3 linked regions of the Homo sapiens genome follow. The protein of the gene in region 3 purifies or fractionates together with the protein of the main gene of each other region. This does not show direct contact. Each region holds a gene or a part of one and is shown on either strand. Other genes may lie near its edges. The genes, in order: UBA3, SRM and NT5DC1.

Evidence for each region.
Region 1: the proteins of NT5DC1 (region 3) and UBA3 fractionate together in Homo sapiens (co-fractionation; one large-scale study listed by BioGRID). This does not show direct contact.
Region 2: the proteins of NT5DC1 (region 3) and SRM fractionate together in Homo sapiens (co-fractionation; one large-scale study listed by BioGRID). This does not show direct contact.

What each region holds. Positions count from the first base shown.
Region 1 is NC_000003.12:69,063,225-69,066,873, forward strand, and holds part of UBA3 (NEDD8-activating enzyme E1 catalytic subunit), read right to left. Parts: intron 888-3,649; coding exon 844-887; intron 280-843; coding exon 215-279; intron 1-214. UniProt on the Homo sapiens protein: Catalytic subunit of the dimeric UBA3-NAE1 E1 enzyme. E1 activates NEDD8 by first adenylating its C-terminal glycine residue with ATP, thereafter linking this residue to the side chain of the catalytic cysteine, yielding a NEDD8-UBA3 thioester and free AMP.
Region 2 is NC_000001.11:11,054,040-11,057,118, forward strand, and holds the end of SRM (spermidine synthase), read right to left. Parts: intron 2,719-3,079; coding exon 2,565-2,718; intron 2,056-2,564; coding exon 1,972-2,055; intron 1,888-1,971; coding exon 1,742-1,887; intron 1,046-1,741; coding exon 923-1,045; intron 847-922; coding exon 826-846; 3' UTR 550-825; downstream 1-549. UniProt on the Homo sapiens protein: Catalyzes the production of spermidine from putrescine and decarboxylated S-adenosylmethionine (dcSAM). Has a strong preference for putrescine as substrate, and has very low activity towards 1,3-diaminopropane. Has extremely low activity towards spermidine.
Region 3 is NC_000006.12:116,099,309-116,103,710, reverse strand, and holds the start of NT5DC1 (5'-nucleotidase domain-containing protein 1), read right to left. Parts: upstream 2,859-4,402; 5' UTR 2,781-2,858; coding exon 2,688-2,780; intron 1-2,687.

The sequences.
Region 1 (3,649 bases), on a different chromosome or scaffold from region 3:
TTGTGCTATTGAATACCAATGTATCAAATCAAGGGATTATAATAACAATTTGTGTCTTCACCTGAAAACCAATGACTGGCAATAAACAATGAAGTAAATATACTTAATTAAAAATTAAACTCTGATTTTTCAAAAATATATCAATTCTAATTTTGGGGATGTGAAGCACAGCAGCAAGAACTTCAGAGAACTATAACAATACTAAAGTCTTTACCAGCATGCCATTTATCCATCTTCTGGCGATGATAGAGTCCAGTCCACATACAATAATATGAAATTCTACAAAAAAAAAAAAAAGCAACTTTAGTTTTTAAATATGTAGTTGCATGATGATCTTTCAATGTAGATTCATCAACTGCAACAAATGTACCACTCTGGTGCAAGATGTTGATTAGGAAGGTAGTGTGTTTGTGGGAACAGGAAGCTCTATGAGAACCCAAGTTTTCAAAAATTTTCTGTTCAATTTTGTTGTGAACATAAAACTGCCCTAAAAAATAAAGTTTACTAATTAAAAAAAAAAAGCACTTGCAGAAAACAATTTGCACGTTCTAAGAAACCAACAAAAAAACCACAAGCACTTTTTACTGTAATCCCACATACGTTCTCAGAGCTCCAATTCCTTGAGTGAACTCTCATTCAGGTAAGCATAGAAACTTGTAGCTGGTCATGTCAGCTAAAACTAGCATTCTCTTTTCAGTCTATCAGCAACATTACTGAAAAGCCAACAGTGAGAGAGGAAAGCAAGTGAAGAAATAGCCTTGAAATAGCTAGCAATATTTGAATAGCTACCAACTAAAAAATTCTAAGAATCTAGTGAGCATTAATTTCAAGTAAAAAACTTACGTCGATAGAAAGTGTCGTTAAAATCTTGAATCTTGTTGAAATGTCTGAATACAAGTAAAGGAACTTAAGCAGCTAAGTTTTAATTTCTAAAATGAATTTGACAATGCCATAAGGAACACACTCTGCATATATTTACAACAAGAAATAAGTAATCAATGTTCACATCAGTGGAATTCAAGGAATCTGACTAAATGAACACAACTCTCCTTTCTGACAAAACTTTTCTGCCATTCCTCCCCTAACTACTTACTTTTTCTCATTCCTGAACCCCTATATCATTATATTTATGCCCTTGGTAGGAGGTATACTTTCTACTTTGCTTTGGTTTTTATATAAAACCATAAGCCCCAGGAAAGCAGAATGTGTGTCCTCAATCATCAGCATCAAGAAGAGATGCAATAAATGTTTTAGTGAAGGAAAGATGCACATTATAGTTCCTATTTTGCTAGGTGATTTTAAGAGTTACTGCAAAGCTCATTTTTTTAACATACAGAAAATTTCAACAGCTTTTTCAGTTGGTAAAGATTTTACTGTTTTTATTTTTTGTGGGGAGGAGAAAAAGTACGAATTTTTTCTACCTTTCTCATTTAACTCAGTTTTCAAGTTACCCTACCAAATCCTATTACCAGTCTTCCCATCCCTGGAGGCTAAAAAGGAAACTCCATTCAAAACTGATTGTGGGTGAGTCAATATAGCACTTAATGTTTTAATAGCACATGTGTGCAAAAACTTGTTTTAATTTTTCTAATGAATGGAGCAATTGTTTAATAATTTATAAATTATGCAACTTCTCTAAAGTTAAGATAAATAGTCCACTATAAATTTTTTAAAAGCAATACAGAGAAAAAAGGGACAATACATAGAAAAAAGGGACAATACATGCTTCCTCTAGATTTTTAATTCTTGCCTACAAATAAAGCTATGAACAATAATTTCAATTCTAGCCCTCAGTCATTCAGACCTCTATTCCCTTTGAATGCTAGGCAAGCAGGAGAACGAAGCTACAGCTAGAAAGAGGTCAAAAAAGAAACAAAGCAAACAGTGGAGGAATGGCAATCAGGGAACCAAGAGCCAGACTAAGAAATCTAATCTGGATTTCTAGAAAATACCCAAAGTTTCCCAGACCCACATAATGGGGATAGACAAACTGAGTGCCCCCCACTAACCAACCCACCCCCACCAACTCTTCCTTTTTCCCTACAGGGGCCTGTATTTGCATTTTTAAGCTCTTTATTTTGAAATAATATAGATTCGCAGTAAGTTGCACAGATAGTATAGGTAGGTACCATGCACCTTTCCCAGTTACATCTTACTATAGTACAGTACCAAAACCATGAACAGAACATTGGTACAATGTGTGTTTATAATTCTGTCATTTAAACACACATAGATTTGTGTAACCACCACCCCAGGCAACACACATAACTATTCGACCACAATAAAGATCTCTCTGCAGCCTCCACATCCTGGGCTTAACTGATCTTCCTGCCTCAGCCTCCCACATAGCTGGGACTACAGGCATGTGCCACCATGCCCGGGTAATTTTTCTAGTTTTTACAGAAATAGGGTCTCATTTGTTGCCTAGGCTGTTCTCAAACAACCAGGCTCAAGTGATCTTCCCGCCTCAGCCTCCCAAAGTGCTGGAATTACAGGCCTGAACCACCACACCCAGCCATCTCTATAATTCTGTAATTTCAAGAGTATTATATAAACAGAATCATGCAGTATATGACCTTTTGAGACTGGCTTTTTTTTTTTAGTCTAATAGTTGTGTAACAGTATCGCTCATGGTGGTCTTAGTTTGATGTGAAACATCTTTTCATGTGCTTTTCGTCATCCTTTTTAGTAAAATATCTCTTCCTATCTTTTGTCTATTTTCTAATTGAATTTTTTTTTGTTTTACTGTTGAGTTTTTAGAGTTCATTATATACTCTAGATATGAGTCCTCCATCAGATGCTTTACAAGTATTTTCTCCAGTCTGTGGCTTTTCTTCATCCGTTTAAGAGGGTCTTTCACACAGCAAGTTTTTAATTTTGATGAAGTTCAGTGTATCAATTTTTTCCTTTTATGGCTCATGCTTTTACAAAAAATTATTTTAATTTTTTAGAGATGATGTCTCACTACATTGCCCAGGCTGGAATGCAGTGGCTATTCACAGTATGACCACAGCCTACTATAGCTTCAAACTCCTAGTCTCAAGCAATCCTCCCACCTTAGCCTCCCAAGCAGCCAGGACTCTGTAGTGGTATGATAAAAGCTCACTGCTTCCTCAGTGATCTGCACCACCATACCCCACCTTTTACAGGTCTTGCTTTTGACGTGGCCTAAGCACTCTCCACCAAACCCTAAAGTTCTATCGTTTTATGGTTTTTTGTGTTTTTTTTTGTTTTTTTGAGATGGAGCCTTGCTCTGTCGCCCAGGCTGGGGTGCAGTAGCGCAATTTCAGCTCACTGCAACCTCAGCCTCCTAGGGTCAAGCGATTCTCCCACCTCAGCCTCCTGAGTAGCTGGGAGCCACTGTGCCCGGCTAATTTTTGTATTCTTAGTAGAGACGGGGTTTCACCATGTTGGCCAGGCTGGTCTCGAACTCCTGACCTCAAGTGATCCACCCACCTCGGCCTCCCAAAGTGCTGGGATTACAGGCATGAGCCACCACGCCTGGCTCATTTTATATTTTATATTTACACCTATAATCCATTTTGAGTTAATTTTGTATGTTTAGGTCAAAATTCATCTTTTAACTATGGATATGAAATTGCTCCAGTACGATTTGTTGAAGACTATGCTTCTTCCATTGGAACTGTTT
Region 2 (3,079 bases), on a different chromosome or scaffold from region 3:
GGTGCCCACACTTGCTTTCTCAATTTGTCCACATAGGGGGCGGGGCATGGTGGGAATTTGAACCCAAGTCTGAATGCCGGGTGGAGTCAGGGCACAGTCACTGGGCCAGTGTTAAGCTCCTGATGTGCTTAAAAAGGCCGAAGGTAACCAGCCCCGCCACCCCTTCCTGTATTTGCCCTGGAGTACCTGGATGGGACCTGACTTACACCTGTGAGTGTCCCCAATTTTTCTGAGAATGCTCCCGGGCAGCCCCACCCTGATCTCACCCACCCCACTGCCCTGGGGGGCTGTCACCAGTGGCCTTGTGAAGGGCTTGGTAAAAGGACAGCTAAGTCAGCTTCCCAGGACAGCTCTGGGTCCCACGTGACGACTGCGGTGACCCTCTGTGCCCCAGGCTATCCACGATGGCCCGCCTGCAGCCTCAGCCCTGCAGCAGACACTTGGGGGTCAGCCAGCAAGGCCTCTGCAGACCCTCACCCCAGAGGCACCCAATGGTGAATGTGGCCCTGCCTGGGCCCAGCCAAGGTCAGGAGACACAGGACTCCAATCTTTGCTATAAATACACGTGTTTGGTGAGTGAGGGGCAACAGAAGGCAGAGAGATGGCGCTGTACACAGCTGGTATAGGCTTGGAGGTGGAACGCCAGAGAGACAGACACACAGACAGTCCGCCCAGCAGGGCAGGCCGGGCAGCATTCTGGGGCTTGTAACACTTGGTTGGTGGGCGAGAGCCAGCAGGAGGTCCGGCCCGGGGCTGGAGGGGCCGAGGCACCCCGCAGGCTCCAAGGTCCGAGGTCCTGGGTGGCATCAGTGGTGGCGCCTGGGCTCAGCTCACATCATTCAGGGCCTGGAGGGACATGAGGCCAGTCAGGAGGGCGCTCTGGGTCCCTGGGTCCCACCACCCAGCCCCGCAGGCCACCCACCTTGCGGGCAAACTCGGGCAGCACAAAGGCGGCGCGGTGCACGTCGGAGTTGTAGTACTTCAGCTGCATCTGCGCCACCTGCTGCTGTGTCAGCGGCTGCACCGGCTCCTGGAAGTTCGTGCTCTGGGGACCGGGCCAGGGGCACATCAGGGGGGGCACTTTTTTTTTTTTTTTTTTGAGACGGAGTCTCACTGTTGCCACGCTGGAGTGCAGTGGCGTCATCTCAGCTCACTGCAACCTCTGTCTCCCAGGTTCAAGTGATTCTCCTGCCTCAGCCTCAGGTACGCGCCACCACGCCCGGCTAATTTTTTTTTTTTTTGTATTTTGAGTAGTGATGGGGTTTCTCCATGTTGGTCAGGCTGGTCTTGTACTCCTGACCTCAAGTGATCCGCCCACCTTGGTCTCCCAAAATGCTGGAATTACAGGCATGAGACACCGCACCTGGCCTGGGGAGGGTTTTTTTTTTTTTTTGAGTCGGAATCTTCCTCTGTTACCCAGGCTGGAATGTAGTGGCGCAATCTCGGCTCACTGCAAGCTCCGCCTCCCGGGTTCACGCCATTCTCCTGCCTCAGCCTCCCCAGCAGCTGGGACTACAGGCGCGCGCTGCCATGCCTGGCTAATTTTTTTGTATTTTTAGTAGAGACGGGGTTTCACCGTGTTAGCCAAGATGGTCTCGATCTCCTGACCTTGTGATCTGCCCGCCTCAGCCTCCCAAAGTGCTGGGATTACAGGTGTGAGCCACCGCGCCCGGCAGGGGCAGGGATCTCTATTTATGCCCACCTTCCCCCCAACCCCCACCCCCAGACACCCCCATCTCACCGGGTTCTTGCTGCACAGCATGAAGCCGATCTGGCCGCTGGGGTAGGTGGGGATGGTGCAGTAGGCATAGGCCACCACGGGGAACAGGGACTGGCAGAACTGCCGCATCTCCTTGATGAGGTCCAGGTGCAGCCACTGGCACTCGCCTGGGGGCCCCTAAGCATCAGCATCCGGCAGGGCCTGCCCTGCCCCACCCCGCCCCGCCCCAGTGCTCCAGGCCTGTGGCTCACCCTGGCAGCAGAGGACACCATCTTCCTTGAGGGCTGTCTTCATGAGCTGGTAATAGGACTCCTTGAAGAGACTTTCGGCGGGGCCTGGGGAAGACAGAGGGAGACACACTGAACAGTCTGGCTGTGACCTCCAGGGCCACTGTCACCCACACAGCTACCAGGTGGCCAGAGCCAGGATCTGAACCCAGGTCTGTGGGGGATCCACACCTGAATCCCATTCTTGGGGGAGTCTCATTGGCACCACAGCAGAGGAACCTCTAACCTAGGCCTTCGTTCAAGACTAGAACCTGCCCCCACTCCAGTGCTGACCACTTCAGAGCAGAGGGGAGGCTGAAGAGGACACAGGGTCCTCAGTGTCCCAATGCCAGATCCCCACTCTCCTTGGTCACCAGCTTGTGAATCTGGGCAGTCGCCTGGCTCCTGCCTACTGTCCTGAGCCATGTTTCAGAGGGCAGGTAACAAATGAGAAGGGAAAAGTACAGCTCTAGTTCGGGGGGTGGGAGGCCGCTCTATCCTTTACTCTGAAGGCCTGGGGGAGGCTGACCTCCAGACCTGCAGCTGCCAGAAAACCCTGGGGCCCATCCACTGCTTACCCATGGGGTCTGAGGAGTCAGTGATGATCACGTCGAAGGCATCCTGATTCTGTTTCATGAACTCAAAACCGTCACCCACATGTAGGGTCAGCTTCGAGCTAGAGTAGCCAATGGCCATGCCTGGCAGGAACTTCTTGGAGACTTGGATGACATCCTGGAGGGGATGGGAGGGACCAGTCTGGGCCAAGGGGCTGGGGGACCTGGAGCCAGCACAGCCACGTGGGACTCTCCAAGTGCCTCACAGGCAAGCCGCCTTGGCCAACCCCTTCCCTTTTTTTTATTATTTTTTTTTGAGACAGGGTCTCACTTTGTGGCCCAGGCTGGAGTGCAGTGGCATCGATCATGGCTCACTACACCCTCGGCCTCCGGGGCTCAGGTGATCCTCCCCCATCAGCCTCCTGAGTAGCTGGGACAAGTGTGTTCAATCATACTTGGCTACTTTTTAAATTTTTGGTAGAGATAGAGTCTCCCTATGTTGCCTCGAACTCCTCGATCCTCCCACCTCGGCCTCCAAA
Region 3 (4,402 bases):
TCTGTGCAGTTGTTAAATGCCTACAAAACTGAAAGGAGACGCACTCACAGCTCTCCATGATGCAGCCCCCACTGACTTCTCCACCATCTTCTCCTGCAACTTGCCACCTTTTGCTTGCACCCAGCAGTTCCCGGTGCTGTTGCTCACCTCGAGGTTCTGACCTTTACTCTAACTCCTCTGGGTGAAGCACTCCTCTCCACCTCCTCACCTGCCAGCTCCCGGCCTTTCCTCTGTGTTTTCGGGCACCATACAGACAGCAAGGTGGGAAGAAGCAGAAATCCACAGCCGGACTACCTCGCTTAGTTGCCCTGGATACACTTTCCTTCTGTGCCCCGTTGCTTGATGCTCTCTTAACAGTGACTAAATCACTGTTAAGTGATTAAACAGTGGTGATAATATCTACCTCACAGGGACGTTGTAAGGATTAAATCCATTCATATAAGCAGCATGCTTATTAGAATCATGGCTGTATCATATTCTGTTATTAAAATACCTATTATCTATTCAGTCTATTTATTGAGTCCAGTATGTGCCCAGCACTAAGCTCGGCACACAGAACACACAAGAAACTGTCACAGATACTGATGGAGTCATCACGCTGGGCTCTAGGGGAAGTCCAACAAGTAAACAGGAAGTGTTAATATCATGCAGCATGTGCTATGAGGAATGAAGGGTTTTGTGGAAAACTGAAGGTGGGCTTAGAATGGAAGGGCAAACTTTAAGGGCCAAAAAGACTTCCTAAGGGGAACGATGTTTAAGATGAGGCCTGATGGGATGAAGAGCTTCTGTGCAGAGCAAAGAGGCCCTCCAGGCACTGTTGGCAGCGTGAAGCAAGACCCAGGTCATACTACCCACCACAAGGGACCAAGACTAACTCTTCAGCATTTTTGCCTACTGTGTAAGGCTGCCTGGAGGCCTGCGTGTTGATCTCTGTATCCTCAGCTCTAGCATGGTGCTCAGCACACTGTGGGACTTAAAATAAAAAAGATTTCCACACCAAACATGATCCAAAACTCAATAGGTTACTGTTTTCAAGCTTTAAACATCACTTATTCTCCAGGTTTGCAGTAAAAAAACCTCTTGTCTTTGAGAATCTTATATTCTGAAATTTTATGATCACCTATGGACAACACTAGCTCTAACATGACAGTGGTTTAACAATATTACCTCCAAATGAAGGTAACTAAAGAGGAGACACACAAAACTGTGAACCAGGAAGGATTCGAAAGACACAGAGGGAAGGAAAACATGTATCAAAGACCTAGGGGAAGCAGTGGCCAAAGAATCAAGCAGTAAAAAAGCCTTCTTAATTCTCAATGTGACTAAGGAAACCAGACCTGTAAGGTAAGAAAGCAGGAAAGTGTAACAGCAGAAAAAGGACATTTAAAAAAAAATTTAGCATCTGGGCATAGAAAACACACGAGAAATTCGGGCAGCCACTCTTTTTTGACCTTTAACGTGTACCTGAACTGGTGGGTGCAGGAACTGGCGGGTGCCCATAATGGGGCACAACCCTGGCTGATGTCTGCACCAGTGATCTAGAGTTCTACCCATAAACTGTGAGGTTTCCAAATAGTTTGGGTGGTAACCATAAAAGCAAACACTTGTCTTTGCCAAGGTACTATTCTAAGCATTATACATCTCTTACTCATTTAATCCTTGCAACAATCTTGTGAGGTAAATCCAATTATTAGCTCCATTTTACAGATGGGGAAACTGAGAAGCAGCACAGGTTAAGTAACTTCCTCGAAGTCACAGAGCTAGTAACAGTGGAGCTGGTGTCCTAAGCTAGGCAGTCTGGCTGAGGAGTCCTCGCTTTCACCACTGTACTCATAACCAGCTCTTTTTCTGTCTGGATGCTTAGATCTTGGACTAAAAAAATCTGGTAACTTTTCAAAATTAGTTTCCTTGGGAATTGGGAAACCAAAGGAATAGTGGAGGGAGGGCAATTAATTTGAGTGTACAGGTCTGGAAGCATGCATACTCCATGTCCCCCTCCCTCAGGGCACAGTGAGGACCCAAACTTCGCAGACTGTTGGTAGGACTGGAATGTATTCAAAGTGCACGGAGCACGTAGTCGATGCGCAATAAATATGTATTTTCTTCTCTTGATAGAAGGTAAAACTAGGGCTAAGATCTTAATGACTTTTCAACTAGTGTTCCTTTCAATACACTACACTATATACTACGCATCTCTCCCAGATTGCAGTTTAAACACTGATGGGTGGTTGATCGTGCAAACAGAAAAATGCAGCCAAAAAAAATGCAAGTACCAAATCAAGTGGCTGTGTCCACAATCAGCTGGTGTCCAGAAAGACATGCAGAGAAAGTTCCACGACGTGAGATCTTCAAGGACAGCCCTAGTCCCCCTGACCCCGCCCCTCCTCGGCCCTAGAAATCACCGATTCCCCAGCCCGGTCTTGCGCAGTTTGCCCCTCCTTCGTTCTTCCCTATCCCTCTCAACATTAGCTAATGGCTGAGGTAAATGTGCCGGTCCCCACGGCACCGGCGCGGAGCGGAGGCTGCACACTTCCGCCCCTTCTCGCCGCTGGAGGCCGCGCTCTGCGGCAAGACTCGGCCGCCGCAGGCCCCGGGCAGCGTCCGCCGTTGCCCAAACCTGGAGGAAACTCAAGCCCCAGCCGCCATGGAGGTTGCGCGCAGTGCGCCCCGGAGCCCGCGCCACTCACCGGGGCGCTCTCGGGCAGGTTGTAGCGACACAGAGTGTGGTCCAGGTCGAATCCGACCACGTCGCAGGCGGCCAGGGAGAAGTGCTGAGCCATGGCTGCGCGGGGAGCACCAGGGAGCGCCTCGGCCGCGAAGGGTGCAAGGAGCTGGCTGGCGGGACGCTGCGGGACAGGACCGGGCCGGACGCGGCGGGGCGGGGCTGCGGCTGCCAGGGCACACGGCGCGGCAGCCTCTCCCGCCTCCCGCGCCCTCGAGCACCGCCCCTCGATACGCTTAGCCCCCGCCCCTCGCGCGGCGGGCGTCCTGCGCCGCCCGGAGTCAGGTAGTCAGCTCGCGTCCTCCTGGTACCCCAATGCCGGCGACTCCTGATCTGTTCCGCAAGCCTAGGAGCCCAGAAGGCAGTAGGGGTCCAGGAGCGGTGCCGCTGCTGCACAGCTGAGACCTGTAGGCACGTAGCCTTTCCCGAGGGCTACCACAAAATTAACCGGGACACTCCATCGCCTCAGGGCGCCTCGGAAACCAGGAGATCATGAGGTTAGACCTGACCTTTTACCCCTGTGTGAGGAATAGTAAGATCATAGAAAAAATTCATCCGCTAATATCCCTCTGACCCAGTTAGCCTACAATTTGGAAGGTCTTTTCACCCACGTGATCTTTGATAGTGGTTTAAACCAAAAACTTTATATTCCTTGGTTTCCTAAGTGGTTAAGTGGAAGACAGACCTTTCACTATTTCATACCCTGGAGTGCGTTAGAAAATAAATGTATCAGACATCGTGAAGAACCATTTTGCAAGATGATACTTGTTATGGAAACCAATATTGGTTATTACTTGATAATCCTATTTTGTTATTGTAATGAATTTTTTATGAAAGGGCATCAGAAACTTCATAGAAATATATAGAGCATACTACAAAAAACTTTTGCAAACCGGGTTTAAGGTTTATAGAGCACAAAATGTTTTGAGTGACATTTGCTTAATTCTCTCAAGAACTGTATAACTACTACCATTTTAGATGCAGAGAAAGTTAATCCATTACATACAATGTATGCCTTAGGGCATTTAATTCTCTTCCTGATTTCCGGATGTGAAGGACTAGCACTTTGAGATCTTTATTACATAGTACCTCATTTTAAAAAGAAAATACAAATCTATTATGTTTACACTGCTTCAGTTCTCAATTTAAAGGAACAATGTGTCTAATGGGACAAATCAATAGTCGTGACATAATGAAAATATAATTGATTGAGAACTGCATTTAACCCTTTCAAATACTAATCCTTCTGAGGCTAATAGACCAATCAGAGGATTAATTTAGTGCAATAGATAGTACAATTGAGTAGGAGGACACTTATACCTAGTAGACCCATTTGAATAAAATTGATAACTTGTTCCATTATAACACTTAAAAGCCCCAAACAAATCTCTCTGGAATAGGAAAAGTAAAGAATCTTCAAGAAGATTAAGCTGTTCACTGATGAGTCCAACAATCATGTTTTCAATGTCTGTGAACCAAAAGAGAAAAGGCTGGATTGTTGGAGAGGCTGGAAAAAGCTTGTTGGCCCTGGAGCATTGACCTTGGCATTCTCCTCTGCACCTTGCAATAGAATGCTACCAAAGTCAAACTTCCAGGTGCATGCCACATTGAAGGGCACATGTTTCCTTGGGGAATATCTTGTTTCATGTGGGAGTAGGTGCTTTAGGTACTTTAGGGACT